Linked DNA regions of Homo sapiens. Changing the gene in region 7 together with the main gene of any one other region gives a genetic interaction. Each region holds a gene or a part of one and is shown on either strand. Other genes may lie near its edges.

Region 1 (4,300 bases), on a different chromosome or scaffold from region 7:
TGAAAGCATAAAACTCAGTTTTGTCCCCACTTCTACCTTGTCCAACAAGATAAACCTTAGAAATACACACAAATACCATTTTAAATTTTAAAATGTACTAATGCTAATAGTAAATGTTTAAACATTAACTATTCCAATATCAAAAACATCTTTCCAAATTTAAGGTGTGCCAAAGAGGAAGTATAAAGCCATGAAAACTGATGAGACAGAACAATTACATTTGTGGCTTCAGGAAAAAAACAAAGCCCACATGAATTACAGAAAGGTCTATTAATTAACCTGGGGGCTATAAACAGGTTAAATGGGATTCAAATTTTCCCCAAAGTGGGAAAGAAATCTGTGACTGAAGAGAATAGTTAATACAAACGATAAGGTTACATAGGAAATGGAAAAGATATCATTTTCCTTTACATTTGGAAACAGACACAATCTAAAGATATCTGAAAATTACTATGTCTGGAATAGCAAAATTGATCATTTTGGGTGGTACCAATGCTGATATGTACTTTCTATCATTTTTCTAAAATGAAAACAGGCTATATGGGTTTTTATTTTTGTTTACTTTTAAAAAATCTTATTTAAAATCAAGATATGTCAAACAAAAAAGCTTCTCTCATCATCTAGATTCATGTTTTTGCTAAGAAAAATTTCTTCAAGATCTGAATGGTGGCAAACACCATTTTCGGACTCTAAATTATAAAAAAAATAGTCTGATAGAAGTAAATCAATGTTTTACAGATGTTTAATAAGTACTGGGTCAAAGCTCACTAATCAGTAAAAAAGTAGATCCAACAGGTCTTCACAGAATCAAATACATTTGTAGAAGACAAAAAGAAAAAATTTCAAGACTATCACAATGAAACAGGCAAATAATGCTATACAAATCTTTTCATAAAATCACTAGATCTTATTCAGAAATATCATCCCCGAACCCTGAACATTTATATTATATACTTTAGACATGCTAAATTTAATACAGAATGAAATAATTTTGCAGAATGTTAATTTAAATAAATTTAAGTTTCAAACACACTTAAAGCCTGGTTTTCCTATAAAAAGGGGTATTACTGTTTTAAAGTTTTAACGAATTCAAATTCAGATACTGGTTGTAGTTTTAGAAAGCACCTACAACCTTTTTCAAGACAACAAATATTAACCAATGCTTACTACTTTTTAAAAATACTTTGTCACTTTTAAAATTTTATCACTTTTAAAATATATCATATATACAAATCATATAAAATAGAGCATGTTTAATCATTCATTACTTTGCAGATAAAGAAAGAGAAGCTCAAATGTTCCAGTTGACCAAATACACTTGTCTAGTAACAAATGGATATTAGTATGAAGTTCCGGCTTTAGAAATTGACAGTTAAATCAGATGGGGAACAATAAAAGCAACTTTAACCAAAGTATAAAGAACACAAATGCAAAATATTAAAAGGGCATATATACTAGAACATAAATTTCAAATTAGTGCACCAGAAAGCTCTATATCTTTAACATTACAACATTTAAAATCTACTGAAATATTCAAAATCAACTATAACACCCTCACTTAAATGATGTACACACTTTTATCCGTATTATAGTCCATAACATCAATAAACTGTGTGGTTTTACCACAAACTGGCAAACTAAAACCTACAGGATAAACATGGCCCATTGCCTATTTAGAATGGCCTGCAAGAATGGTTTTTACGTTTTTAAGGCGCTTATTAACAAGAAAAAAAAAAAAGCAAAGAATATGTCAGAGAACACTTACAGCCCACAAAGTCTATTTGGCCCTTTACAAAGAGTTTTGCCAACCCCTGATATAATACAAATGACCAAATTTTAAGTACTTTTCTCCATCACTGAAACTCCTTATATATACACTGGAATATAATATACAAGGGGAAAAGTCTTGGAGGTTAAGGAAATGCAGGTTATAGCTTGCATTTAGGTATCAGGAAATTCCCAGTCTTTCTGAGTTCAAGATTCTTCACCTCTGATAAGAGGCACTTAAAAAAGGTCAGTTTTGGGGAAAGGAAAAGCAGGACATTTGAATCTTCTATGAGTTTTTCAACCTGTAAGAAGACTCTCCTTCCTTATAACTATTGGACTTTAATAAAACCTGCCTGCCCCAACCCTCTTGCTAATGACTGGGCTATGTGATATATATAAAATCTGGTCCAGAACACAAAACAAAATTCCTTCTTCAACAAAACAGGTATGGTATATGCATACATGTTCTGATTATCTACTGCTGTATAAGATGATCACCCTAAAACTTGACTTAAAATGGTAACACCTTTCATTATGGCTCATGGTTCCAGGGCTCAACCGGGGTCTCCCATGTGGCTGCAGTCAAATGGGGCTGGGGCTGGGGCTGAAATCATCTGAAGGCTTGTTCATTGACAAGTCTCGTTGATGTCTAGGCTGGGAAGATTCAAAGCTGGAGCTTCTCCAACATTTCTGTGTGTGTGATTACTCATTACTATGGCAACCACCGAGTAGGCAGATCTTTTACATGGTAGTTTAGGACTCTCGTGTCCCAACAGAGACGGGAACAGGTAGAAATCCAGCAACACCATCACAGTATTTATTCATCACAAAAGCTTACCTAGCTTCAAACAGAGGGGACACATATTCCAATCACTGTTGACAGAAGTGTCATACATAATACATGACAGATGTTTCCAAAATTACTATAGTTTTATTTAAGGGTAAATATTTTAATTATATACTTGAGGTGCATTTTTAATAACAAAAATTCATTTAAATAGGTCAATGTTAAAGCTTATAGTATTAAGTTATAAAGCTAATGTAAACTGCTGCTTCTGGCCATATTCTTCACTGACTTGAAAAAGTACACTTTGCATACATTTTAATTCATTTTTTTAACGTAGAATGAATTATAAAAGAAGAAACATTTTAATACTCTCACAAGCTACTGCTGTTAAAGACTATAATCATCACTGGCATATCCTTTTTGAAAAGAAATAATTATCTCTTTTAGATATAAAGTAATATCCACTAGTTCTAGGTTGACTTTCTTTTAACCTACCTGAACAAACGTTTTTAACCATTTCCTTTGTCCTGAAATTTAACATTATTGATATTCTATATAGAGATATGTATACTTTCAATTACTTCATAATAGTTTGACAGTAGTATCCCAACCCAAGAATAACAACAGTAAACAAAGATTAGAAATGCCAGGTTAAGAAAAGGCCTATAAGCATACAATTCATGCACTACAAAAATCCTAATTTCTATGACATAAAGCACTTCACATTGAAAGCCTTTTTTAGATGTCTATATAGAGAACTATAGACATTAAAAATCACTTTTTTTTTAATTTGTTTTTTTGGAGACAGAGTCTCTCTCTGTCACCCAGGCTGGAGTGCAGTGGCGCAATCTGGGATCACTGCAACCTCCACTTCCCAGGTTCAAGTGATTCTCCTGCCTCAGCCTCCCGAGTAGCTAGGATTACAGAGGCCCGCCACACCATGCCCAGCTAATTTTTGTTATTTTTAGTAGAGACAGGGTTTCACCATGTTGTCCAGGCTGTTCTCGAACTCCTGACCTCAGGTGATCCACCTGCCTTGGCCTCCCAAAGTCTTGGGATTATAGGCATGAGCCACCGTGCCCGGCCTTAAAAAATCACTTAAAATCTTTAAAAAAAAAAAAAAAAAAATTTTTTTTTTTTTTGAGACAGTCTCACTGTTGCCGAGGCTGGAGTGCAGTGACATGATCTCAACTCACTGCAACCTCCGCCTCTGAGGTTCAAGCAATTCTCCCTGCCTCAGCCTCCCAAGTAGCTGGGATTACAGGCACCTGCCACCACGCCGAGCTAAATTTTTATATTTTTAGTAGAGAAGTGGTTTTGCCATGTTGGCCATGCTGGTCTTGAACTCCTGACCTCAGGTTAAAATCTATAAAATTTTGTTCCAAAATTAAGATGTCACAAAAAGATGGATTTTTTTATAATGTGCCAGTTCAAGAAATAAGCTTAATGAAACAATCCTACATTAAACAGTATTTACATTTAGAGCTAAAATTCAAATCTATCTAAAAGTTTTACACTAGCAGTCTAGAGGATAAACTCAGCTCTTGAATGCTGTTTTTAAAAATTCTAAGGATTTAATATGAAAACCCACTTAAAAAAATACTATTTGATTATTAGGGGCCCAGATTCTCACCTGAAAACAACCAGCTGGAAGAGTCTAGTCTTCTGTTAAGACACAGAGAAGGTAACATATGTCAAAGTTTTGCATGAGACAATCTGGGTTTGTATCTGGTGAATGAGTTTGTA
Region 2 (4,300 bases), on a different chromosome or scaffold from region 7:
GGCCGAGGTGGGAAAATCACCTGAGTCCAGGAGGTCCAGGCTATAGTGAGATGTGATTGCACCACTGCACTTCAGCCTGGGCAACAGAGTGAGACCCTGTCTCAAAATAAAATAAAATAATAAAATAAATAAAGTAAAATAAAATAATAAAATAAAATATAAAATAAAATAAAAGGAAAAAAGGAAAAAAAGAACAGAAAGCTTGTCAGAGTTGTATTTAAAATAACAGTAAATACACTGCTTCACTTGACTAGCCTAAAAAAAATTCCAGCCGGGCGCGGTGGCTCACGCCTGTAATCCCAGCACTTTGGGAGGCTGAGGCGGGTGGATCACGAGGTCAGGAGTTCAAGACCAGCCTGGCCAAGATGGTGAAACCCCATCTCTACTAAAAATACAAAAAATTAGCCGGGCGTGGTGGCACGCACCTGTAATCCCAGCTACTCCGGAGGCTGAGGCAGATAACTGCTTAAACCTGGAGGGGTGGAGGTTGCAGTGAGCTGAGATTGCACCACTGCACTCCAGCCGGGGTGACAGAGTGAGACTCCATCTCAAAAAAAAAAAAAAAAAAAATTCCAGTAAATAATAGGCTTAAGTGAGGTCTTTTCCCATGAATATAATGCACCAAATTAAAAAAAATCATTAATTGAGGCTTTATTATATGCCAGACACTTTGCTAATTGCTTTATATAAAGTAGCCCATTTAATTTTCTCAGAGTACTTAATGATGTATGTAGCATATCAACATTTTACAACAAAGAAATGCTTAGTCACATTAAATAACTTTCTGAAAGTCATTCAGAACTAGTAAAGTGGCAGAGTTGTTTTCAAAGTCAGTTTTATTTTTTAGTATAGATATCATTTGTTTATTATAGAAGAGACATGGCAATTATTTACATAATTAAATATTTCAGAACTTAAGTGCAATGAGCAGCTTCATGTTGATGGCATTTCAATAGTGATTTACTTCAGTCTACATACTTTCTAAGAATGTCAGCATCTCTAAATAAGAAATAATCTGGCTGGGCATGGTGGCTCACGGCCTGTAATGGCACTTTGGGAGGCCAAGGCGGGCAGATTGCTCAAACCCAGGAGTTCAACGCCAGCTTGGGCAACGTGGCAAAACCCTGTCTCCACAAAAAGATACAAAAATTAGCCAGGTGTGGTGGCTCACCCTTGTAGTCCCAGCTACTTGGGAGGCTGAGGCAGAAGGATCGCTCAAGCCTGGGAAGTTGAGGCTGCAGTGAGCTGAGATCGTGCCACCACAATACCCTGGACAACAGAGACAGAGACCCTGTCTCGAAAAGAAAAAGAAAAAAAAAAAATCCTTGGCCTTCCAGGTCAACTGAATAAACCTGAAGAGTTGCAAAGTAGTTCTTTACTTTTGTGCCTCCATATTCTGGGAGAATAATTCTTTATCTCTAACTTTCACATTAACTGGTTGAATCCACCTTTTCCTTGAAAGCTCAATCCAACAACTACTGTTGCTTGCAATGCTTTACCTTGAGATTTTTCTGGAAGCGTAATGCCTCCTTTGGTTACAGTTTCAGCTGTACTCCTTTCAACCAATACTCCATCAAAGAGCATAAGAAACTTCTAAGTGCCGGTCCTGCTATGACTCCTGCTGCTGTAGCTCATATTCTCCAAACCCAGTTTATTTAATTCTAAATCCTGTGGTTCTAACCACTATATATACTGCAGTATATGAAATGGCCTACTTTTTTAGAAAAATAAAAAAATTGTTCCTAAGTTCTAAATATAGAGAAGTTTGTTAAATAATATCCTACCAAATATGTTAAGTTTTTATGATATTATCAGAAAAAATTCAGTGATACTCTCTTTTTTTTTTTTTTTTTGAGACGGAGTCTCACTCTTTCACCTAGGCTGGAGTGCAGTAGCGCGATCTCGGCTCACTGCAGGCTCTGCCCCCCGGGGCTCATGCCATTCTCCTGCCTCAGCCTCCCGCGCAGCTGGGACTACAGGCGCCCACCACCTCGCCCGGCTAATTTTTTGTATTTTTAGTAGAGACGGGGTTTCACCGTGTTAGCCAGGATGGTCTCGATCTCCTGACCTCATGATCCGCCCGCCTCGGCCTCCCAAAGTGCTGGGATTACAGGCGTAAGCCACCGCGCCCGGCCTCTTTTTTTTTCTCCTAGTATCTACTGCTTTAAAGTAATGCTCTTCTGATTCACTCTGGGAACCTCTCCTCCCCATTTTTAGTCCTTGAGCTCCTGAAGGAGTTTTCTACGCTGCGGCTCAGCAGTAAAGCACTTGCCGTGGCGCAAGCCGCTCATCAAGCTTATTCAGTTGGCCCACACCAGGCCTAAACATGGGCATGTGATTAAGTAAAGCCAGTCAGACACAATGAAGTTTTGCCCGGAAATATGTGAGTGTGAGTGTGTGTGTGTGTGTGTGTGTGTGTATCTTGACCTGGAAATATGTGAGTGTGAGAGTGTGTGTGTGTGTGTGTGTGTGTGTGTATCTTGACCTTCTTTTTGAACATGAAGCTGAGAGACTTGGAGGTCTAAAGCTAAAGCTGCCGTCTTGCTTTCACATGAAGCCTGAAACTAGCGTTAACTAAGATGAAATCAATGCTAAGAGAAAGAAAAAAAAAAAAAAGACCTCATAATATTGGTTGAATGCAAACTTAGCTGTGCCTGAGTTAAGCCCTATTCCTCAACTTTGCAACTTACACAATTCCCTTTCTTGTTTAAGCTCGTTTCATTAGGTATCCTGTTACTTGTAACCAGAGTCCAAGCTGAGACACTTGATACACAAAAATCAATATGTGTATTTTTTTAATCCATAAATCTCCTTATGGCAGGGGCAGATCTCACCCTGATCTGGACACTCTGTTTGCTACTTAGACTTGGTCTCTGTGGGTCATGACACAGATCCTGAATTGGCCTAGAATCCTAATCCAGCTGTGGTGGTGCAGAATCCCACCCTAGCCCTGGTGTCTTGGCCAAGTCAGGTATAGCCTTTCTGTGAAACAGTGTTTCAGATATTAAACGGCTATGAAGCTTAGATAAAATTCAAATGCATTCTTTACAAGTATAGTACTTACAGTAAGCAAGCTAGAAGAACTCAACGTATTCACCCAGTATTTATTCCACAACAGCTCAAGCAATTTGCGATCCAAAGAGGATTTGAAATATGAGACTTCTAAGGCATAATATCTATGAAATAAAAGCATAAAATTTAGTAAGTAAAAAAAAAAATTCAACTACGTCACATAAAACTTATGGCCAGATTTAAGTGAGTTACACTTTATTCTCAAATATTCACATTTTAGTCTTTATTCCAATAAGGCAATAGCTAACCATGGTTTCCTCACACTTCAAGGGTTGTGGATCCAAATCTCCTACTAAACTTCTTGTTTTATTCCTTTTTTTCTGTAGAGCCCAGAAATTCCCCAAATGTTATTAACAACCAGTCAAAACTTCTGAATGACAAGTTTATTCCTGTTACTGAGTTCATAAATTCAAGCCAACAGCACATAAACTTAATAAGCTGCCTCTCTAGGGTCAACTATAATTTTTGTTAGCCTCTTTAAAATAATAAAAATGACATGTGGATTCCATTCTTCCCTTCCTAATTCCCCAGTTAGGACCTACTGCTTTTTGAAAAGCAAATTTTAAGGTAGGTCCTTAAGGCATCTAAAATAATTGCTCCCACTTTCAAAGGTGCCTAATTTATCATCAGGGCATAGTAAGGAAAAATCTAGTTAAATGTCTGAAAAATACATATATTTTTAAGATGTAAACTTACATCTTAAACTTACACATGCTTCTGTGTATCAGTGGATATAAAAAAGCATGAGACATCTTTACCTTAAGGAACTCAACATTTATATGGGGGATGTGGTCTAAACCCACATCAAAATTAAATATAATGATATACATTGAATAACAATAAGTGATGCTACAGTGCTATATAAAATGAATCACCTACCAACTAAGGGTTAGAGATAATAAGTATTCTTCATATAGAGGAGCTCAAGCTAGAACTGCCTGAGAAGCCTCAGGGAAAAGGCAAGGTGTAGGGTAAACATTTTTGAGTCTATGGTATGGATATGTGGAGAGCAAGGAGGGCATTAGGCAGAGAGCATCAACACACAAAAAGGAAAGACATGTAAGAGATAATAAGGCAATGGGTTTAGCTGGAAAATTTAGCAAGAGAAGAATTATGTGAGGGGAAGCTAGAAAGCTATGCTGGGGTCTAGGTGGTGAAGGATGTTACACAAAAGGTTAAGAATTTTTTTTTTTTTTTTGAGACAGAGTCTTGCTTGGTCACCCAGGCT
Region 3 (4,300 bases), on a different chromosome or scaffold from region 7:
GCCAAACACAAAAGGTCATATATTGTATGATGGAATTTATATGAAATGTCCAGAATAGGCAAATGCAATAGGCTGATATGGGCACAGTGGCTCACGCCTGTAATCCCAGCACTTTAGGAGGCTGAGGTGGGCAGAAATGGTTGTACAACTCTCTGAATATACTAAAAATCACAGAATTGTACAGGGGTTTTCTTTTTTTTTTTTTTTCTTTTGAGACAGGGTCTCACTCTGTTGACCAGCCCAGGTTGGAGTACAGATCAATCATGACTCGCTATAGCCTCAACTCCTTGGCCCAAGCAATCCTCCCACCTCAGCCTCCCAAGCAGCTGGGACCACAGGCATTCAATACCACATCTGGCTAATTTTTAAATTTGTGTAGAGCTGGTACCTCCCTATGTTGCCCACACTGGTCTCAAACTCCTGACTGGCCTCAAGCAATCCTCCTGCCTTGGCCTCCCAAAGTGCTGAGATTACAGGTGTGAACCACCACACCTAGCCTGAATTGTACACTTTAAAAGGGTGAATTTTACAGTATATGAATTATATCTCAAACAGCCGTTATAAACAACACTCCACACAATTACTATACGCATTCTGTTTCTACCATTTTAACACCAAAAAAACTACAGACAAAAATCTCAGGATAAAATACTGTCCTTCAAATTTAATAAATATGACTTCATGAAAAAATTCATTACATTGACTTTATTTTCACATTTCATCATAGACCAGGTGAGAACTTTGTCAAACACCACAGAGCCAATGGAACTGGACATTTAAAAGGGATGTTAGTTACTTTTCCTACTCAACTAAGTATCAAGCAGTTCAGATGAAGCAATATGCATCTGAAATCAATACTTGGAGGCATTAAAATGCAAGAACCAAAAGAAAACAACAGATAAAATATTAAATGTATTTGCAATTCAAATTAACCTTTTTTTTTTTTTTTTTTTTTTTGAGACAGAGTCTTGCTCTGTCGCCCAGGCTGGAGTGCAGTGGCACGATCTCAGCTCACTGCAACCGCCACCTCCTGGATTCAAGCAACTCTTCTGCCTCAGCTTCCCAAGTAGCTGGGACTACAGGCACGCGCCACCATGCCCAGCTAATTTTTGTATTTTTAGTAGAGATGGGGTTTCACCATATTGGCCAGGCTGGTCTCAAACTCCTGACCTCATGATCTGCCCACCTGGGCCTCCCAAAGTGCTGGGATACCAGGCATGAGCCACTGCGCCCGACCAAATAAACTTACTTTTTGAAGACGAAACAAAACACTCTACCTGCCCCAAACCAACTCTGCTCCAAGGATCCTCTTTGAGACCCAGTAGTATGAACAAAATGGCATCTAGCACTTGAATTCCAATTCTGTCTGGTACTAAACTGGTGAACTTGAGCAGGTGGCTTAACTAAATCTCTTTCCTTATCAGTATACTGAGGAAATAATAATAATACCCACCCTCACAAGATATTAGGGAAGTGTAAATGAGATCATGTAAAGCAATGCTACTCAAACCTTGGTCTTCAGACCACTGCCAATCCACAAACTATTAGCAGTCTGCATCAAGGTAAGTACAGAAAGAAAGCATTAGCACTTAGAACATCTTAGGGCAATTTGACAGGCAGTTTACAGTTTTGTTTTGAGACAGGGTCTCCCTCTGTCACCCAGGCTGGAATGCAGTGGCGTGATCTTGGCTCACTGTAACCTCTGCCTCCCGGGTTCAAACTATTATCGTGCCTCAGCCTCCCAAGTAGCTGGGATTACAGGCCTGTGCCACCATGCCAGGCTAATTTTTTTGTGTTTTGTAGTTGAGATGGGGTTTCGCCATGTTGCCTAGGCTGCTGAACTCCTGGCCTCAAGTGATCCACCCACCTCGGCCTCCCAAAGTGCTGGGATTACGGGCATGAGCCACTGCACCCAGCCAATGTTTGTTGAATCTAATGATGATAATAATAAAAAGCCTGTATTCTCTATGTCTTTTTAAATGTTATTTTTCTAGTAATTTTATTTTACAGAAGTGCTTTTAGAACACTACTGATCTGCAACAGCTTGAGGGAAAAATCTACCTGGTCCTTTACCAAGACAGTTTGAGAAGCAGTGATATTAAGCACTCTACCCAGTGCTGAGCACAAAGTAAGAATCCCTGGCTGGACATGGTGGCTCACGCCTGTAATACTAATACTTTGGGAGGTTGAGGTGGGAGGATCACTTGAGTCCAGGAGTTTGAGACCAGCCTGGGCAACATAGCGAAGCCCAGTCTCCACAAAAAATAAAACACAAAAATCAGCCGGGCATGCTGATGTACACCTTTAGTCCCAGCTACCCAGGAGGCTAAGGCAGGAGGATCACTTGAGCCCAGGAGGTTGAAGTTGCAACGAGCTGAAATTGTGCCACTGCACTCCAGCCTGGGTAACAGAGTGAGACCCTGTCTCAAAAGACAAATAAACAAAACAAACAGAACCCCTCCCCCGCCCCAAATATTAATTTCCTCTCCATCTGTCAGACTCTATAGTCAGTTACTAAATGCTTAGGGAGAACCTTCCTGGCAAAAGATAGCGTGCAGGTGCAATGGTAGCGCTAAAGAAATTTAAGAAATGTAGATGCAGAGGCCAGGCGCGGTGGCTCACGCCTGTAATCCCAGCACTTTGGGAAGCCAAGGCGGGTGGATCACAAAGTCAGGAGTTCATGACTAGTCTGGCCAACATGATGAAACCCCGTCTCTACTAAAACTAACAAAAAATTAGTCAGGTGTGGTGGCGGGTGCCTGTAATCCCAGCTCCTCGGGAGGCTGAGGCAGGAGAATCACTTGAACCAGGGAGGTGGAGGTTACAGTGAGTTGAGATCGTGCCACTGCACTCCAGCCTGGGCGACAGAGTGAGACTCCGTCTCAAAAAAAAAAAAAAAAAAAGAAATGTAGTTGCAGAAATAAAATCCACAAATATAGAACAAACAATGTAAAAGATAAGGCAGTACAAGCTCTAAATACGTGATACTGAAAAAAACTAAAAAACTAGTACTCTTTTCAGGTTAAAGTGGTCAAGGAGGTTTTGTCTGAGGAAGCATGATTAGAACTGGGCCTTTGAAAGCTGCATAGGATTAAGGCAGCTGGGAATAGGATGGGCATTTAAGCAGAGAACTGCCAGTGCAAAACCAAAGAGGGAGCCATTATGAATAGATGAGTCCAACAGGAAAGCAATGGAAAAGCAGCTGGAACCAGCTTTATGGGAAAAACCTCATCTTTGTCCATCAGTTCAAAGATTTAGAACCTAAGCCAGGGAGCCACTGAAGATTTCTGAGCTAGAAAACAAAATGATCAAACCAGGGTCACACATATCCTACTACTGTATCACTATATACATCAGTTTGGCCATTTTCCCGTGTGGCCTCTATCTCTTTTCCTTTCAGTGCACTCACCCTGCAAAAGACCATACATAACCTCAGATCAATGCAACCATCTGCTTCCTAGACTTCAATTCAAATCTAGGCCCAGATGTGCTGGAGAAAACCAAACGACCCTCTATAGTGATATAAGATAGATGATGTTGCGGGAAGTCAGGGACCCCGAATGGAGAGACCGGCTGAAGCCACAGCAGAAGAACATAAATTGTGAAGATTTCATGGACATTTATTAGTTCCCCAAATTAATACTTTCATAATTTATTACGCCTGTCTTTACTGCAATCTGTGAACATAAATTATGAAGATTTCATGGACATTTATCACTTCCCCAATCAATACTCTTATAATTTCCTATGCCTGTCTTTAATCTCTTAATCCCGTCATCTTCATAAACTGACAATGTATGTCATCTCAGGACCCTGTGATCACTGCATTAACTGTACAAATTGTTTGTAAAACGTGTGTTTGAACAATATGAAATCAGGGCACCCTGAGAAAGAACAGAACAACAGCGATTTTCAGGGAACAAGGAAAGATACCATAAGGTCTGACTGCCTGGGGGGTCAGGCAGAATAGAGCCATAGTTTTCTTCTTGCAGGGAGCCTATAAACGACATGTGAGTAGGAGAAATATCACTGAATTCTTTTCCCAGCAAGGAATATTAATAATTGATAACCCTGGGGAAGGAATGCATTCCCAGGGGTAGGCCTATAGACGACTGCTCTGGGATTATCTGTCTTATGCGGTTGAGATAAGGGATGAAATATGCCCTGGTCTCCTGCAGTGCCCTCAGGCTTACTAGGATTGGGAAATTCCAGCCTGGTGAATTCTAGTCAGACTGGTTTTCTGCTCTCAAACCCTGTTTCCTGTTAAGATGTTTATCAAGACAATGTGTGCCCAGTGGGA
Region 4 (3,783 bases), on a different chromosome or scaffold from region 7:
GGAGCCATTGTGATTAATGCTGGGAAAAGAACACTAAAATGTGCTCGTAGACAAGTTGTTTTTATCTCTGAGCTTTTATTTTTATCTGTAAATACAACAAATAATATTCCAGTCCTAAAATGGATACTTCATAGGCAAAGTTAGAATAAGTAAATAACATTGTTATGAGTTCATCATATAAAGCTCTTAGAAAAATGCTTAGCACATAGTAGATGCTCAATAAATATTAGCTTTTATTAATATTATTATTACCATATATAATGTGGTTTGGAAAGAACTTACTAAGAGTAGCAGCCTTAGAGGGACCAAGACAAATTCACTGCCCTTCTCTAATTAGTAGAGGACTCTGTCACCAGATACAAATCGAAATTTTTCTTTTTGTTAAAGAGTTAAGGCAATTGTACTGAATTTTTCTCAATTTTTAGTTTCCTCACATGACTTAGATTTTGATGCTGTACAAAATAAATAATTTTCATTTAAATTTGACAAATGCTTTGGAGATTACTGAAATTTTTTCAAGTATCCTACATACATAGTTGCAAAATAAAGGCAGTTTTTTAAAATGTCACATGCTATTTTTATTGAAATCTATCTGTACGTAACTACATGTTCTTTTTCAAGGTTATGGAATTAGAATCAAAGCTAAATGAAGCAAAAGAAGAATTTACGTCAGGTGGACCTCTTGGTCAGAAACGAGACCCAAAAGAATGGATTCCCCGTCCGCCAGAAAAATATGCATTGAGTGGTCACAGGAGTCCAGTCACTCGAGTCATTTTCCATCCTGTGTTCAGTGTTATGGTCTCTGCTTCAGAGGATGCTACAATTAAGGTAATTTTTTGTTAAAAGCAGACTTAACGGGAGGCTGAAGCAGGAGAATGGCATGAACCCGGGAGGCGGAGTTTGCAGTGAGCCGAGATTGCACCACTGCACTCCAGCCTGGGCGACAGAGCCACACTCTGTCTCAAAAAAAAAAAGCAGACTTAATAGGGTGAAGAAAATTAAAAGATCCTGAAAATGAGGGCCTATGAAGAGGGACAGGAGGTACTCTGAAACGTGTGATTTGGTTCTAAATCTTAAAAGACAGAATTGGAATAAAATATCATTGTGGCTCCTGAGAGGCATGCTGCCAGGTAAGTTTGATGGTGAATTTGAGAAAGTCGGGTGTCACTAACTGAGTTGATGTCAGTACATCACCTTGTGCTTGAACAATTTTTGTTCTTGGAGAATGAAAAGTGTGTGTCTTACCTTTAAACGGAGGTTATGTGTGAAATACTGATTGACAAAACTAGTAATTGATAGGGTGAATCTATACTGCAAAAGAATTCAGTAGAGGATTCATTTAAATTGGGCTTTCCTTGATGTATTTAAAATTGGCTTTCCAGGAGTGTGGGAATATACAAGCTTTTCATTTTATAAATTACGTATTTCATTAAAAAATTTTTTTCACAGTAAAAATATTATTACCTTTTAATGTTGTGCTTTTTTAATTAGGAAAAGAGTTGTTTTTAAGTTGCCTTTGTTCCGGACACAATAAAATGACCGTTGTATAAACCACCTACAGAAAGATAAGATAGTTGCAATATAGGTAGATTTAGGTAGATGCCTCTATCCTAAGGGTTATTTCAAAGTAAGTTACAGATATTAAGTTTCATTTACAAAAGTATAACCAATCGGCCGGGCACGGTGGCTCACGCCTGTAATCCCAGCACTTTGGGAGGCCGAGGCGGGTGGATTGCCTGAGCTCAGGAGTTCAAGACCAGCCTGAGCAACACGGAGAAACCCCATCTCTACTAAAATACAAAAAAATTAGCTGGGCATGGCAGCGTGCGCCTGTAGTCCCAGCTACTTGGAAGGCTGAGGCAGGAAATTCGCTTGAACCCAGGAGACAGGTTGCAGTTAGCCAAGATCGCTCCACTGCACTCCAGCCTGGGCGACAGAGCGAGACTGTCTCAAAAAGGTAGTTACAACTAACCAAATAGTAACGACGGTTTGGCCTTACTACTAACAGCAGAAGAAATAAACACTGAAATTATGGGCCGGGTGTGGTAGCTCATGCCTATAGTCCTAGGACTTTGGGAGGCCAAGGTGGGAGGACTGCTTGAGCTCAGGAGTTAGAGAGCAGCCTGGGCAACATAGCAAGACCTCGTCTCTACTTAAAATTAGCCAGGTATGGTGGTGCATGCCTGTAGTCCTAGCTACTCAGGAGGCTGAGATGGGAGGATCACATGAGCCTGGGAGTTGGAGGCTGCAGTGAGCTATGATTGAGCCAGTGTACTCCAGCCTGGGCGAAGAGTGAGACCCTGTCTTAAAAACAAAAAAATTGGACTGGGCACGGTAGCTCATGCCTGTAATCCCAGCACTTTGGGAGGCCAAGGTGGGTGGATCATGAGGTCAGGAGATCGAGACCATCCTGGCTAACATGGTGAAACCCCGTCTCTACTAAAAAATACAAAAAATTAGCCGGGAGTGATGGCGGGCTCCTGTAGTCCCAGCTACTCGGGAGGCTGAGTCAGGAGAATGGCGTGAACCCGGGAGGCGGAGCTTGCAGTGAGCCAAGATCGCGCCACTGCACTCCAGCCTGGGCGACAAGAGTGAGACACACATACATATATATGTGTGTCAAATTGTCAAGGTATTTTACCTATTAAATAAGAATTCCCAGTGATGATAAGATTTTGATAAAGTAGTCATTCTCATTACATATGATACAGTCTTACGGGATATCAATTTAATAGAGTATATGAAGGCTTTAAAAGTTTATACTTTTTGACCCACTAATTGTTTCTCCCCATTACTGTCTGACCTAGGTATTATAAAATGAGGACAGAATTTTTTTATATTAAAAAATGTTCACTATAATGTTTTCTATAATAGTGATTTAGCCAGCAATTAGAATTTTTTTTTTTTTTTTGAGATGGAGTTTCACTCTTGTTACCCAGGCTGGAGTGCAGTGGTATGATCTTGGCTCACTGCAGCCTCCGCCTCCCAGGTTCAAGCAATTCTGCCTCAGCCTCCCGAGTAGCCGGGAGTACAGGCGCCCACCACTGTGCCTGGCTAATTTTTTGTGTTTTTTAGTAGAGACGGGGTTTCACCATATTAGCCAGGATAGTCTCGAACTGACCTCGTGGTCCGCCCGCCTTGGCCTTCCTAAGTGCTGGGATTACAGGCGTGAGCCACTGCGCCCGGCCATATTTCATTTTTTAACTCAAAATGACATATGCTCTTGTTCATTTGCTATTCGTGAACAGTTAACATCTTCTGAAATCTTTCCTTGGCCCTTTAGATGTCTGAGTTCTGATGGTCTAGTAGGATCGAGTATTCATCCATTGTTCCTCAAATATTCTACATACAAATGCCTGCTATAGCCCTCTGAAGCTCCTTCCCTTCCCCTTCCCTTTCCCCTTTCTTTCCCTTTCCTTTCCATCTCTTTCTCTTTCTTTCCTCTTATTTCTTCCCCTTAAGTTTCCTTATTTACATGTCATTCCTGCTCTGAGACAGGGAGCGGACTATGTCTTGTGACTTTATATACCTTATCACTATTACAGTTGGTTATGTGATAGAAACCTTATAAATGTGGTTCTAGAGATAGATTTTAATAATTGCAACATTAGTTTTCCCTGTAGAAAAAAAGACCAATTTATACATGAGATACAATATTTCTAAAATAGTTATCCTTTGTTACTTGTTCGGTTAGTTACTCAGTAAGGTGCCAGACTGGCCTGCTGAGTGCAAATGTGAAACAAGAAAGGAGTGATGGAGTTGGTGTTAACCAATTTTCTGTTC
Region 5 (4,300 bases), on a different chromosome or scaffold from region 7:
ATTCTCCCCTAAATTTAATTAAAGTACTATAAATAAATAAACTCAAGTCTTTACTCTTCTAAAGGTACCCGACTAAGTTACTTTAACCATAGTTAGTAATTTCTCTATTCCTTAAAGAATCAGAAGAATTCTAGCACATCCAAAAATTGCTACACCAATGAAAATGACTTATGTTATTTAAACTGTTGAAATCCTAGCCACTCAACTGTTTCTTCAAATGAAATCTTATGGAGGAAGTCAAATGTAAGAGAAGCTTCACTGACTGCAGTGGGATGGGGCTGGCAGCAACTCCATTCACAGGCATTCTGTTTCCCACCACGGCCCCTCATTAGATCCCTGGCCTCTCAAAAGAGTGTTAAGGCTCTAAAACTATACCAGGAAGTATATTTTTGCAAAACCAAATGGGCTCTAAGTAATTAGTTTTCAAAATTCTCCAGTGTATTGTTTTGGACTTATGTTTCAGACTGGTGATAAAATTTCAGCACCTCACAACACCATGACACGGCAGGGCAGAAGGAAACCCTCTGCCGGGAAGCAGATGACCTGGACGTCAGCCCCAGCTTTGCCATTAACTGGCTCCTCAAGCCAGGGCAAGTCAGTTTCTTCTGACACAAAATGAGGGGTTTAGATGAAATGGTCCATAAAGTCTCTGCCTATTTTAAAATACTGTAATTAATCAACATTTGAACATGTATACCTGTCATTTACAAATGTCCATGCCATTTGAACCAACTTTTGAATTTTGTTTTTATCACCTAGAAATGGGGACAAAAAGGTAAATTAATAGCAATAGAAAAATTCACAGGCAGCATCAAGTATTTATTAAAAACCTACCACGTGTTCAGCACCACTCAAATACACAGCAAAGAGCTTTTGCGTGGGAAACAAGGATGAATGATGTGGGTCCACATCCTACCCCTTCTTCCTCCTCATGACCTACGCTGAACCACCATGTATGGAAAACCTGGCTCCAAGGCTAAGTTTATTAGTCCATTTAAAAAATTCTGCCTCATTTTCCTGCCTCTCCCATCACTTGGCAACTGGATGACAGAGCCTGTTTATACATAAAAGGAAACAGCATTAGCAGCTGCAATGCTGAATTGACTGAGCAAGCCATGCCCTTGGTATTTCACACATCAAACTTTGTTTTCCGCTTTTGAGAAGCGTAATTTGAGTGTCATCAAATTATAAAGACTTGATTTCAGAATGAAAAAATTCTTCTGAAAACTTTCTTCTTACCTTTGAGTTGCTTTGCATATTTTAGTAGGAACTGGTATGGATGTTCTACCTGTAAATCAAACTTGATGGTCTGCAGTAAGATTCTCTCCAGAACCATTACTTCCTCCTAAAAATCAATCACAAATGTTAGGACAGTAATTACAATTGCAGGTCTCAAGCAGCATTACAAAAGTGAGCTTTCCTGTCTATTTATTCTCTCTTCAAGTTATATTTTAGCAACTGCCTTTCCTTCCTTTCTCTCCCACTCAGACTTTTAACATGCTCAGAGACACTGATAAATTCTGAAAAGATCTCAAACAGGAAGACAAAGCAGAGGTGTAATGTAAAAAAAAATACTGAAAACAAAAGATCCTTAAAAATATTATTATTTTCAATACATACATGAGTCTCCCTTTACAAAACAGATCTTTACGTTATTGATAATTTGACTAAATTGTAATTTCTTTCAAGACCTCAAATTTTAAAAATGCAATCTTTTAGGAATTTTCATTGAAAACATTTTAAGCAAGAAAGAGTTTATGATAGCCAGCCTCATGAAAACTCAGAGATAAATTGTACCAGTGTGTGTGTATGTGTGTGTATATATACTCATGTACACATATAGTGTATTACGTGCAAATGGGGGCAAATCAATTTTGTGTTTAAATCTTTCATTTATTTGAAATAAATCATCCCAACAACACTTACTGAATAAATGATCATTTCCAATTTTATTTAAAATGCTACCTAAATCACCTCCTAAACTACGTGTGTATGTCTGCCTACACACACACTATCTTTTCTGTTCACTGATCTGCCTGTCTACTCCTGGACCAGGATCAAAGGGATTTGGGTGGGATACAATAGCTCCAGTATTACTTCTCTTTTTCAAACAGTTTCTGGGTTCTGCATGTCCCCCTCACTCAAATTTTAGTAACCATTTTACTTAGTATCATTACAGAAAACATACATGCTATTAATATTCTCATTGGAAACTCAGAGGATTTATAGAATAATTAGGGAGAATGGAGATTTTTAACCATATTGAAGTTTCCTTCCAAAAATTTATTAATATCTTTTCAGTCCTTTAGTTGTTTTAAAGTCCTTTCCACCCCACTAACGAGGTTTCCACAAGGTTTAACCTTGGATATTTTACTGTTGCTATCGTTAATGGAATGTCCTCTTTGATGATACTCTCTAACTAATGTCTTGAACTCAGCCCCTGTACAGCCGACTGTACCTACTGCTTAAAGACAACATAAACCACAACCAAGACACTGTGTGCGGGGAGGACAATTTGAGAGAATTCCTTGTTTGGCATCAAAGACAGGGCGTTGTAGAGGACTGTAAATCTCATCAACAGGTGCAGAGACCCACAGGTCACTGGCTTTCATTTAGAAGCATGGTATTATTTTATAGGATACAGAGATGATTCTATAATTATTATTCCAAATTACATGGCAAGACTAAGGTTTTTCAATCTTAGTTTCCCAAGCATTTTCTCATGAAAGTTTTTTAAAATCTTAGAAACTTTCACACAGTGTAAAAAAAACTGGGCTGGACATGGTGGCTCATGCCTGTAATCCCAGCACTTTGGGAGGCCGAGGCGGGCAGATCACTTGAGGTCAGGAGTTCAAGACCAGCCTGGCCAACATGCTGAAACCCCACCTCTACCAAAAATATAAAAATTAGCCAATCATGGTGGCAGGCGCCTGTAGTCCCCTACTTGGGAAGCTGAGGCAGGAGAATCGCTCGAGCCTGGGCGGCAGAGGCTGCAGTGAGCTGAGACTGTGCCACTGCACTCCAGCCTGAGTAACAAGAGTGAGACTCCATCTCAAAAAACAAAACAAAACAATTTTTTTCTTTGAATGTCATTGTCACCACCTGCTTCCCAGAAGCTTCAACACTTCCTCTAAATTTAGAAACAATTCTTTTTACCAAGTGTACCAATTGGCTTGCAGGCTGTAGCCCACATACTGTTACAGGATAGCCCAGGGCCTGCCCTCCCTCTGTCTTCCAAATATTCAATTAATGGGGTCATTATAGGTCTTTGAGCAAACATCATTCCTCAGGAACGCCTTCCCTCAGCCCCTATTTATCCGGGGGACTTGCCTGGGTCCCTGGGTGGAATGCTATCACAGCACCTTAAATGACCTTTTACAGCGTACACCACAACTCATCATCAAATAGTTATATACTCATTTGATTAAAATTTATCCTGCCACTCAACTGCAGAGTCCATGAGAGCAGAGACCATGTCTGTTCTGCCTCGTGCCTCATGTCTAGTGCCCAACACAAAGGCTGAAACGAATATTACAGAGAAAAGCCACACAATTAAAATAAAGCTAATTAAGGCAAAAAATGTTCCATGGGACTCATGATCTTATTTTTCCTAAATACTTATACTGCCTCCACTAAAGAATTGCCCTCCTGTCTGCAGAGGAAAACATCTTCCCCAATGTCTTCACTGCTCCCAGCTCCAGGTGTTTTCCTTTGGCCCCGACTCCGACCAGGGAAGACTGCGCGAGATAGAGAGGCAGGGGGCAGGTTGCAAAGCCCCCTCCCCCATTCAGACCTAATTGGTATGGTGACCCCTCTTTTCCCATTTTCTGGGGCACAGGAGCTTCAGAACTTCTACTTTCACTGTTCCTGGACTGGGGCTTGGTTTCCTGACTTCATGGTACAGTGGGTAAAGGCTAAAAGTAAAGGGGGCTTCTCCAAGGCACCCTGGGATGGCACAAACCAGCAGCTGCCACGAGTCCATGCCCTGCTGTGGTCCCAGATCTGTGTGATGCCTTATCCTTAAGCACAGCTTGCCAGCCACAAGGTTCACCTGCCCCTGTGACGGGGGTGTGACTGAACCACAGCATGTTCCTACAATCAGACTTATCACGTTAGGACACAGGGCCCCACTACTCAGTAAAAATCAAATACCCATGCACATTGAAAACATTATCTGATGGTGAAATTATTTCTATAAAACTGCATTTTTGGTTATAGTTAATATGAGTTCCTAATAGGTTCAAATGTTTATAAACAGATTAATGGATTTATAATTAAGTTCAAAAGAGTTACCCACATT
Region 6 (4,300 bases), on a different chromosome or scaffold from region 7:
ATCGACTCCTAGGACAAGTATCTCCTTAGATTAAAAAAATATATATATATATATGTAATAAAAACTCTAAAAAGTAAGTTTCCATAGCTCATTTGTGAATAGCCATGACCCATACATAGGATTCTCAGGCTAAGACCAACATTCAATTCTCACTCTCATCCTAAAGGCCACTTGGCCTTTTTGGATTCTTTCTTCCTTGCAAGGTAGCAACTAAATAACTGAACAGAAGTGGAATTAGCCAATAGAATAAATGGCTGAATTCCTTCTCTATGTATGCTTCACCAATACTATTACCTGCAATTTAGTGCCCAACGGACAGAAGCAATCTGTGAGAAACATGGCAAAAGCTCAGTTGCTGGATATGCTAAACCCAGTTTCACTATCACTGAACTTTACCAGTAAGGATCATCACTGGCAGAAAGTTTTATTCAACAGCTTAAAAAAAAATTACCTGTACTTGTCTTGTACTTTCTGCTTTATATCCTGCAGAGAATCTTGGGAAATATCTCGTTCAAGGTAGCCCGAGAGCACCTCTGTGGCATTCTCTAGATCTGCTTGGTTATTCTGTAAGAAGAATGAAAGTAAATTTTGGCTTCAAAATAAAGCTAAAAGATAAACCATTTTCACTGTTTTGTTGACTACAGACTGCTCTCAACACTCATTCTGTAACTTTCATAGGTGGTTTAACTGCACCTGTAAAGCTCTATGGGCTTTCATCTCTAATAACTTGTTTGTTCTTTTCCAGAACAATTTTTTAAATGTTAAAAGAACGAAAGATTTCACCCATTACTTTTGGAAGAATACTGAAGACCATTTGAAAGGATTTAAAATGTCTTTTGGAATCTTCTCGTTCTGAGAGCTGCTCTTTGCTGAAAACTCAAAGGTAAATGAGAAAAAATAGAAACCTATTATTGCTTACATCTGGCTATACTTATTTCTTATAAGAAAACACTGTATGGAAGATTCAAATTGTATCATCCTTTACCACTATGGCTAGTTTTGTACCTGTTACCCAACTGAAGTCCCATCTGCTAGTCAGTCTTATTGTCTAGTCATATACAGATATCAATGTTTTATGCATCAATTTTAAATGAACATCTTTACTTGAGAAAACCTTTACTGCTAAAAGCTGGCTTTTTAGTCATTATTTCTCCACTAAAGATAACCACCACATTAACTTCTAATATTGCAGGGTTAGTTTAGCCTGAATAAAGGCTTTTATTGAGAACTTATGATGTTCCAGGTGCCGTATAGCAATTAACACAAATTGTCTCACATAAAACACAAATTGTCTCACTTAAACCTCATAACAACCTAGAAAGGTACTATCCTCACTTTAAAATGGACAAATAAGAGGTTAAGGAATTTGCTCCAAATCAACAGAGCTAAAACATAATGAAGTAAAGATTAAAATCTAGGGCTGACTCCAGAACCTGCATACCTAATCACTAGCTGGCTAAACCACATCGATCTGAATATAATTTAGGACAAGAAATAGAAATTTCTTGTATCTTTGTAATAAATACATTCGTCTACCTACATGTTCTGAACAAACAAGAACCCTGAAAACTCTGTATCTTATATATGAAAGATCAGGTAGACCTATGATACAAGGTGGGCTTTTTCCTCACCCAGAACTACTCCTACCTCAAAGATAATGGACTGGTTATTCTTTTTGAGGTAGAAAGCGAAGACATAAGTGTACATGAGTGTGGCACGACACTGGCAGAGGACATCAACTGCCTTCTTCAGGAACTGCACCTCAATCCAGGACATGTTGTGCTGCTGCATCTCCTCCATTTTCTGTTTCACCTGAGCATATAGTTTGTGCTCAAAGCGCAGGCTCTGCATGTGGTTCATATAGCGATTACAGTAGAACAGGTACCTCTGCAGGGCTGCCCTAGATCGCTGTCCCATTAAGAAAAATTGGGTGATATAATTATAACACATAAACTGTACATAAAAGCTGATTATCAAATTAAAACCATAATGAAGTCTCACTTCACACCTGTTAGAATGGTTTTTATCAAAAAGATGAAAGATAAGTCTTGGCAAAGATAAAGAAAGAAGGAGACTCTTGATACACTGTTGATGGGAATGTAAATTAGTATAGCCATTATGGAAAATGGTATGGGGAGGTTCCTTAAAAAACTGAAAACAAAACCACCACAGAATCCAGCAATCCCACTACTGTGTATATATGAAAAGGAATTGAAATCAGTATGTCAAAGGTATCTCTGTACTCTCACATTCACTACAGCATTATTCACAATAGCCAAGACATGGAATCCATGTAAAGTGTCCATCAATGGATGAACACAGAAAGAAAACGTCATGTATGTACACACACACACGAGTACTCAGCCTCAAAAAAGGAATTCTGTTGTGACAACATGGATGAACCTGGAGGACATTACACTAAGTGAAATAAGCCAGGCACAGAAAAGAAATACTACATGATCTCGCTTATATGTAGAAACTAAAAAAGTTGAACTCACAGACATACAGAGTATAATGACGGTTACCAGAGGCTTGCGGGGATAGAGGGGTAGGAAGGGAGGGAATGGGGAGTTGGTGACCAAAGAGTACAAAGTTTCAGATAGACTGGATGAGTAAGTTTTGAGATTTATTGCACAACAGGGTGAATATAGTCAATAATAATATATATTTCAAAATAAGTATCATTTCAAATGTCTCACCATAAAAATGTTAAGGCAAGGCAATACAACAATTAGTTTGATTTAATCATTGCATTGTTTACATATTTCAAAACATTCCACTGTACTCCATAAATGTGTATAATTATGATTTGTCCATTAAAAATATTAATAATTTAAAAAGCTGATTTACTGATGAAACAGTACTGTGATCTAGGCTAAAATCAGGAATAGACATCTACTGCTACTTTTGTTATTTAATACTCTTGAAAAATGTCCTATTAATTGTACTTTCCAATACAGTAGCCACAAGCCACACCTGACTACTTAAAATTCAATTTAAGAAACTAAAAATTCAGTTCCTCATCGCTCAATAGTCACATGTGCTTAGTGACTACCAAATTAGACACTGGTGATAAAGAACATTTACATCATTACAAAAATGTTCTACTGGATGGCACTGTTCTACAGTATGCCACAAGATGTAAAACAAGCAAAAAGCAGAGATATTTTTAAGTAGAAAACTACAGTGGCAACTACATACCATGTAACTCCTGATATAATACAATAGAAAGTATAATCAATTAAGTATTCTGGGCTCCCCCCCCAACCACTGAATCTGAATTTGATCAAGTTTCTTGAATTAATCACCAGTGCAGAAAATGCAGGGATAGAAGAACCTATTAAATGACACCATGCAGTTGCAACCAGCAAAATCCATAATGTGGGAAACTCTACAGGACAACACGATCTAGTTTCTTCAACAAAGAAAAAAAAGCAAGGAGGGGGGAAGAGAAGGAACAACAGGTAGAGGAGACTCAAGAGATATCAATTAAATCCAATTTGTGGACCTATGTGGATCCCAATTTGAACCAACTATAAAAGAAAATTTAAGATAGGCTGGGTGTGGTGGCTCATGCCTGTAATCCTAGCACTTTGGGAGGCTGAGGCGGGTGGATTGCCTGAGCTCAGGAGTTTGAGCCAGCCTGGGCAACACAGTGAAACCCTGTATCTACTAAAATACAAAAAATTAGCTGGGCGTGGTGGCATGTGCCTGTAATCCCATCTACTTGGGAGGCTGAGGCAGGAGAATTGCCGAGTTGCACCACTGCACTCCAGCCTTGGGGAGAGAACGAGACTCTACCTCTGAAAAAAAAAAACAAAACACCAAAAAACAAAAAAAAGCAAAATTTAAGATAATTGGGGATATTTGAACAATAGATAGTTGATACCAACAGAGTATTGCTTTAAAACATATACAGTTGACCCTTGAACAACACAGGATTAAACTGTAAGTCTACTTTATATGTGGATTTTTTTCAATAAATATATTGAAATATTTTTTGGAGGTTTGCCAACAATTTGAAAACACTTGCGGACAAACCAAAATTAAGAAAAAGAGTTGTCATGAATGCATAAGACATATGTAGCCTATCTTATGATTTACTACGATAAAATATACATAAATCTATTAATAAAAAGTTGAGATTTATCAAAACTTATGCACACAAACTCTTACAGACCGTATATGGTACCATTCACATTGAGAGAAATGTAAACAAACGTAAAGATGCACACGGTACTCTGGAAGGGACTGTCAATGCTATCGAAGAGAACCCCCACAGAACATCATGGAAGTCTGG
Region 7 (4,300 bases):
GACGGGAATGAACAAGTAAAAATCTTGAAGGACCTCATGATATCTTGGGAAAATACTGCCTTTTATTCATCTTGCAAATATTTACTGAATGTCTACTATGTGCCAAGAACTGGTTTAACAGCCTAAAATTCCTGCCCTCATGGAATTTTTATTCTAAGACCCAGTGTGACACAGTTTATGCAGCTCAGGAGACAAGGATGGGAAGAACCTTCCCTAACTGTGGTGATGGTACGCTATTCTGAAGCTCTGAGTCCTTCCCGCAAATGCCAGTGGGAACCAGCATAATTAAAGGCAAAGGGCGCCTCAGGGTGGAGTGGCACTCAAGGCCTCTCTGATCCCACCCTGCCCTCTCTCCGATCCCACCCTGCCCTCTCTCCTGCTTTCTCTCAGGCTGGGCCATCAAGATCAGGCCTGAATGTTCCTGCTTGCACTTGCTCTCACCTCCCAGGGTTCTTTGTCCTCTGGCTGGAACAAAGTTCCTATCTTAGCTCTTACCCACTCATCTTCTAGAACCAGCTGTAACACCACCTCCCCTCCTCAATGCTTCCAAGGCCCCACATCTGTCTGTCTGTCCCACACCTGTGACACTTTATAATCAAATTTCCCCTAAGTCAGTCTTCCCCTTCAGACTGCCTAGCTCCATGAAGGCCAGGAATGATCCGAATTCACTGGCCCAGCAAATAGCTGGTGCTCAGCAAACATGTTTGTGGGATGAGGCAATCTGGATCCCTGTGGAAGGAGCACTGTCCTGAGAGTCACAGACCTGGAGTCTTGTCCCCTTTCTGCCTGGCTGGTAGTGTCACTCTGATCAGTTAATTAAACTTTCCGGGGCTGGGCGCGGTGGCTAACACCTGTAATCCCAGCACTTTGGGAGATGAAGGCAGGCGGATCGCTTGAGGTCAGGAGTTCGAGACTAGCCTGGCTAACAACATGGTGAAACCCCGTCTCTAATAAAAATACAAAAACTAGCCGGGTGTCGTGGTGGGCATCTGTAATCCCAGTCCCTCAGGAGGCTGAGGCAGGAGAAATGCCTGCACCCGGGAGGGACAGGCTGCAGTGAGCCAAGATTGCGCCACCACACTCCAGCTGGGTAACAAGACTCTAGCCTGGGCGACAGACTCCATCTTAAAAAAAAAAAAAAAAAAAAAAAAAAAAAACACCAAAAAACCCCACCTTTTTGGGCTGTCTTCCCCTTTGTGAAAGGACAGCTTGATTATGTCAGGAACACCCCACATGTGCTACCCTTCTCTGCTCCTGTGGCACTTTCCTCCACGTAGCCTTAACTTTGCCTCAGAATCTTTCTCAAGGCAGCACTTTAAGATGCCATGTCAATCAACCAGGATTGGCACACGAAGCGAGACGCAGTTAGATGATCATAGAGATCTTATTGCTCAAACGCCCAATGGTTCCATCGGCCTAATGGAAACCTCAGCTCCTATATGCTTCCCTTCTGAGAGTGTCAGTGTCCCCACCAGTGGGACAATGTCAACGGTCGCTCATCTACCTCTGTGAACTTGTCAGCCACCATGTAGCGGACGCGCCAGGACTTGTCTTCAGCGGCCTGGCGCAGAGTGGGCATCACCAGGGCCTCCAGATCCTCCTGGGGCAGAAGCTGGGCGATGTTCACGCACGCCTCCACCGCCAGCAGCCGCACCGAGTCCTAGGGAGAGGAGAGGAACAGTGGGAGGGCAGCAGAGGCCTTGCTGAGCTCTGGGATTCTCTTTCATGGGCAGGAACCACCAGAAGGACGGGAGAGCAGAGGGCCAGGAAGCAAAACTCACCTGCTCGTCAGAGGCCAGGTTGGAGAACATGGGGATGATCTCACTCTTGACGTTGTCCAGCTCCAGCACCTTGGCAAACTCCCCCAGCTTGGAGGCTGCGGCCCGCCGCACCATGGGGGTGTCATCTGAGCACAGGTTCCGGAAGTACCTGGGAGTCGGGGACGGGGATCCTGAGGCAGCAGGCAGTATGGCAGAGAGGAGCAAGCACAGACTCTGCAGTTGTGTGGGTCCAGGTTTTAGCTGAATGACCTTGGGCAAGTGATGACCCCCTCTCTGTCTTCCCAGCCCTATGAAACGGAGCTGATAGTAACAGTACCTACCCCACAGGTCCGCATGAGGTTTAAATGAAAATAGTGTGTGTGAGACACTTCGCAGATTGCGCATAATAAATCTAGTCAATGCTAAGTGCTGACGATTACATCATTCCCATAAAAATTGCTTAACCAACGAGCCAGGCACAGTGGCTCATACCTGTAATCTGAACACTTTGGAAGACCAAGGCAGGAGGATTGCTTGAGCCCAGGAGTTCAAGACCAGCCTGAGCAACATAGTGAGACCCCATCTCTGCCAAAAATAAAAAATGAGCCCAGCGTGGTGTTGCACACCTGTGGTCCCAGCTATTTGAGAGGCTAAGGCAGGAGGAATGCTTGAGCCCAGGAGGTTGAGGCTGCAGTGGGCTATGACTGCACCAGTGCACTTCAGCCTGGATGACAGAGCGAGATCCTATCTCAAAAAACAAACAAACAAAAAACTGCTTAACTAAGAGGCAGGTCTAGAGCCACAGAAAGGCTTTATTTTTCAGCAGCAATTGCTTCGATCAAAGGCGGTGGGGGCCAGTGTAAGTATCTAAGCAAGTGTACAGCCATAAACCAGAGTTCTGGAGTGAGTCAGGCTCAAACCCGGGCTTGACGGTCAATCGTTTGCAAAGTAGACGAGCAGGAGGCTGAAAACTGAGGTGGTTTATCTGCCAAAGGCACTGGACCTGGGACAGGCTGGAGATACCATCAGATGTAAGTTGCTGAAAGTTTTTATGTTCCAGATTTTGCTCTAAGCACTTTATGTGTGATAATTCTTTTAAATCCTCACATTAACCAGTGGGAAGGAGGACCTGTCATCATCTCAATTCCTAAGTGAGCAAGGGGGCAGAGGTGGGTAAACTGACACGTGGCCGTGTCCAGAGACCAACTCTCGAGGATGTGGCCTATCAGGTGGTAAGCAGGAGTGGGAGTGGAGAGAGTTCAGGGGCATTTGGGCCCCAGCTAGACCAAAAGGAGTCTGAGGCTTTAGAGAAGGTTGGAGCTGAGATGGGAGCTTGGAGCTTCCAAGGAGGCAGAGACTCACTGTCGAAGTTCCGCCTTCACAGCACTGGACACTCGGGGGTAGCAGACGGAGAAGAGGCCGCAGGCCGAGGTGCGGGAGGTGAACCAGTCGCCGCCCGCCAGCCGCTTCACTAGCGGCACAAAGTGCGCCTCCAGGTCAGAGGGCGAGTGCTCGTGTGAGATGGCCCGTAAGGACTCCACTGCCTTGTCCCGCACCACTGTCTCCTCCACTGTGGCCAGCGACTCCAGCGGTGGCTGTGGTGAGAACACAAAGTCACTGGACAGCTCCCTCTCCACCATCCGCAGCCCTGGAGCCCCATCCTGCACCCCATCATGGGCTCATCTCCTCAGAGAAAACTTCCCTATTACCCATCCCGACCTTCATTAAAATAGCCTTTAAAAATGGTTGCAATGAATGACTCAAAGGAAAAACGTAATATTATGCCAGCCAGCAGAAGGTCTCTGTCAGCGTGCCTTCCACAAAGGTTCTTATTTAGGGGTCCTTGAAGGAGTTTCACTGGGGTCCATAAACCTTAAAATTACACACGTTGCTTTCTGAGGAGAAAGTTCTTAGCCTCTCAAAGTGCAATGATCATCACTGACACTGTGTAGAACATCTACTCACTGTGTGTACTAGGCAGGACCTCCGTGTTGTACCAGGGGTGCTTGTTCTTCCTCACTGAATTCTATAAAGCAAGTCCTGATTTTAAAGAAGAGAAAACGGGCCGGGCGCAGTGGCTCACGCCTGTAATCCCAGCACTATGGGAGGCTGAAGCGGGTGGATCACGAGGTCAGGAGTTCAAGACCAGCCTGGCCAATATGGTGAAACCCCGTTTCTACTAAAAATACAAAAAAATTAGCTGGGTGTGGTGGTGCGCACCTGTAATCCCAGCTACTCGGGAGGCTGAGGCAGAAGAATCCTTGAACCCGGGAGGCAGAGGCTGCAGTAAGCCGAGATCGCACCACTGCACTCCAGCCTGGGCAACACAGCGAGACTCCGTCTCAAAAAGAAAAAAAAAAAAAAAAAAAAGAAGAGAAAACTGAGGTACAGCCTGGCTTGCCCAAGCTAGTAATAGCTACAGGTCAGGATCGAAAACCTGACCTAAGCTTCCCATGAACAGTTACACACAGCTCTGGTGACTGAATTGGGATCTCATGTTTCTGGGGGACTATGGGGCTCGGGACTGCTCGCTGGTTGTT

Evidence for each region.
Region 1: changes in PPP2R1A (region 7) and YTHDC1 together harm fitness more than expected from each alone (negative genetic interaction), as found in Homo sapiens cells (one large-scale study listed by BioGRID).
Region 2: changes in PPP2R1A (region 7) and COPS5 together harm fitness more than expected from each alone (negative genetic interaction), as found in Homo sapiens cells (one large-scale study listed by BioGRID).
Region 3: changes in PPP2R1A (region 7) and TIMELESS together harm fitness more than expected from each alone (negative genetic interaction), as found in Homo sapiens cells (one large-scale study listed by BioGRID).
Region 4: changes in PPP2R1A (region 7) and PAFAH1B1 together harm fitness more than expected from each alone (negative genetic interaction), as found in Homo sapiens cells (one large-scale study listed by BioGRID).
Region 5: changes in PPP2R1A (region 7) and CCNK together harm fitness more than expected from each alone (negative genetic interaction), as found in Homo sapiens cells (one large-scale study listed by BioGRID).
Region 6: changes in PPP2R1A (region 7) and ARIH1 together harm fitness more than expected from each alone (negative genetic interaction), as found in Homo sapiens cells (one large-scale study listed by BioGRID).

What each region holds. Positions count from the first base shown.
Region 1 is NC_000004.12:68,339,862-68,344,161, forward strand, and holds part of YTHDC1 (YTH domain-containing protein 1), read right to left. Parts: intron 1-4,300. UniProt on the Homo sapiens protein: Regulator of alternative splicing that specifically recognizes and binds N6-methyladenosine (m6A)-containing RNAs.
Region 2 is NC_000008.11:67,048,166-67,052,465, forward strand, and holds part of COPS5 (COP9 signalosome complex subunit 5), read right to left. Parts: intron 3,177-4,300; coding exon 3,065-3,176; intron 1-3,064. UniProt on the Homo sapiens protein: Probable protease subunit of the COP9 signalosome complex (CSN), a complex involved in various cellular and developmental processes.
Region 3 is NC_000012.12:56,439,200-56,443,499, forward strand, and holds part of TIMELESS (protein timeless homolog), read right to left. Parts: intron 1-4,300. UniProt on the Homo sapiens protein: Plays an important role in the control of DNA replication, maintenance of replication fork stability, maintenance of genome stability throughout normal DNA replication, DNA repair and in the regulation of the circadian clock.
Region 4 is NC_000017.11:2,666,371-2,670,153, forward strand, and holds part of PAFAH1B1 (platelet-activating factor acetylhydrolase IB subunit beta), read left to right. Parts: intron 1-621; coding exon 622-828; intron 829-3,783. UniProt on the Homo sapiens protein: Regulatory subunit (beta subunit) of the cytosolic type I platelet-activating factor (PAF) acetylhydrolase (PAF-AH (I)), an enzyme that catalyzes the hydrolyze of the acetyl group at the sn-2 position of PAF and its analogs and participates in PAF inactivation.
Region 5 is NC_000014.9:99,497,811-99,502,110, reverse strand, and holds part of CCNK (cyclin-K), read right to left. Parts: intron 1,922-4,300; exon of another isoform or gene 1,346-1,921; coding exon 1,240-1,345; exon of another isoform or gene 756-1,239; coding exon 698-755; exon of another isoform or gene 1-697. UniProt on the Homo sapiens protein: Regulatory subunit of cyclin-dependent kinases that mediates activation of target kinases.
Region 6 is NC_000015.10:72,578,339-72,582,638, reverse strand, and holds part of ARIH1 (E3 ubiquitin-protein ligase ARIH1), read right to left. Parts: intron 1,909-4,300; coding exon 1,648-1,908; intron 565-1,647; coding exon 452-564; intron 1-451. UniProt on the Homo sapiens protein: E3 ubiquitin-protein ligase, which catalyzes ubiquitination of target proteins together with ubiquitin-conjugating enzyme E2 UBE2L3.
Region 7 is NC_000019.10:52,210,315-52,214,614, reverse strand, and holds part of PPP2R1A (serine/threonine-protein phosphatase 2A 65 kDa regulatory subunit A alpha isoform), read right to left. Parts: intron 3,356-4,300; coding exon 3,123-3,355; intron 1,930-3,122; coding exon 1,782-1,929; intron 1,661-1,781; coding exon 1,505-1,660; intron 1-1,504. UniProt on the Homo sapiens protein: The PR65 subunit of protein phosphatase 2A serves as a scaffolding molecule to coordinate the assembly of the catalytic subunit and a variable regulatory B subunit.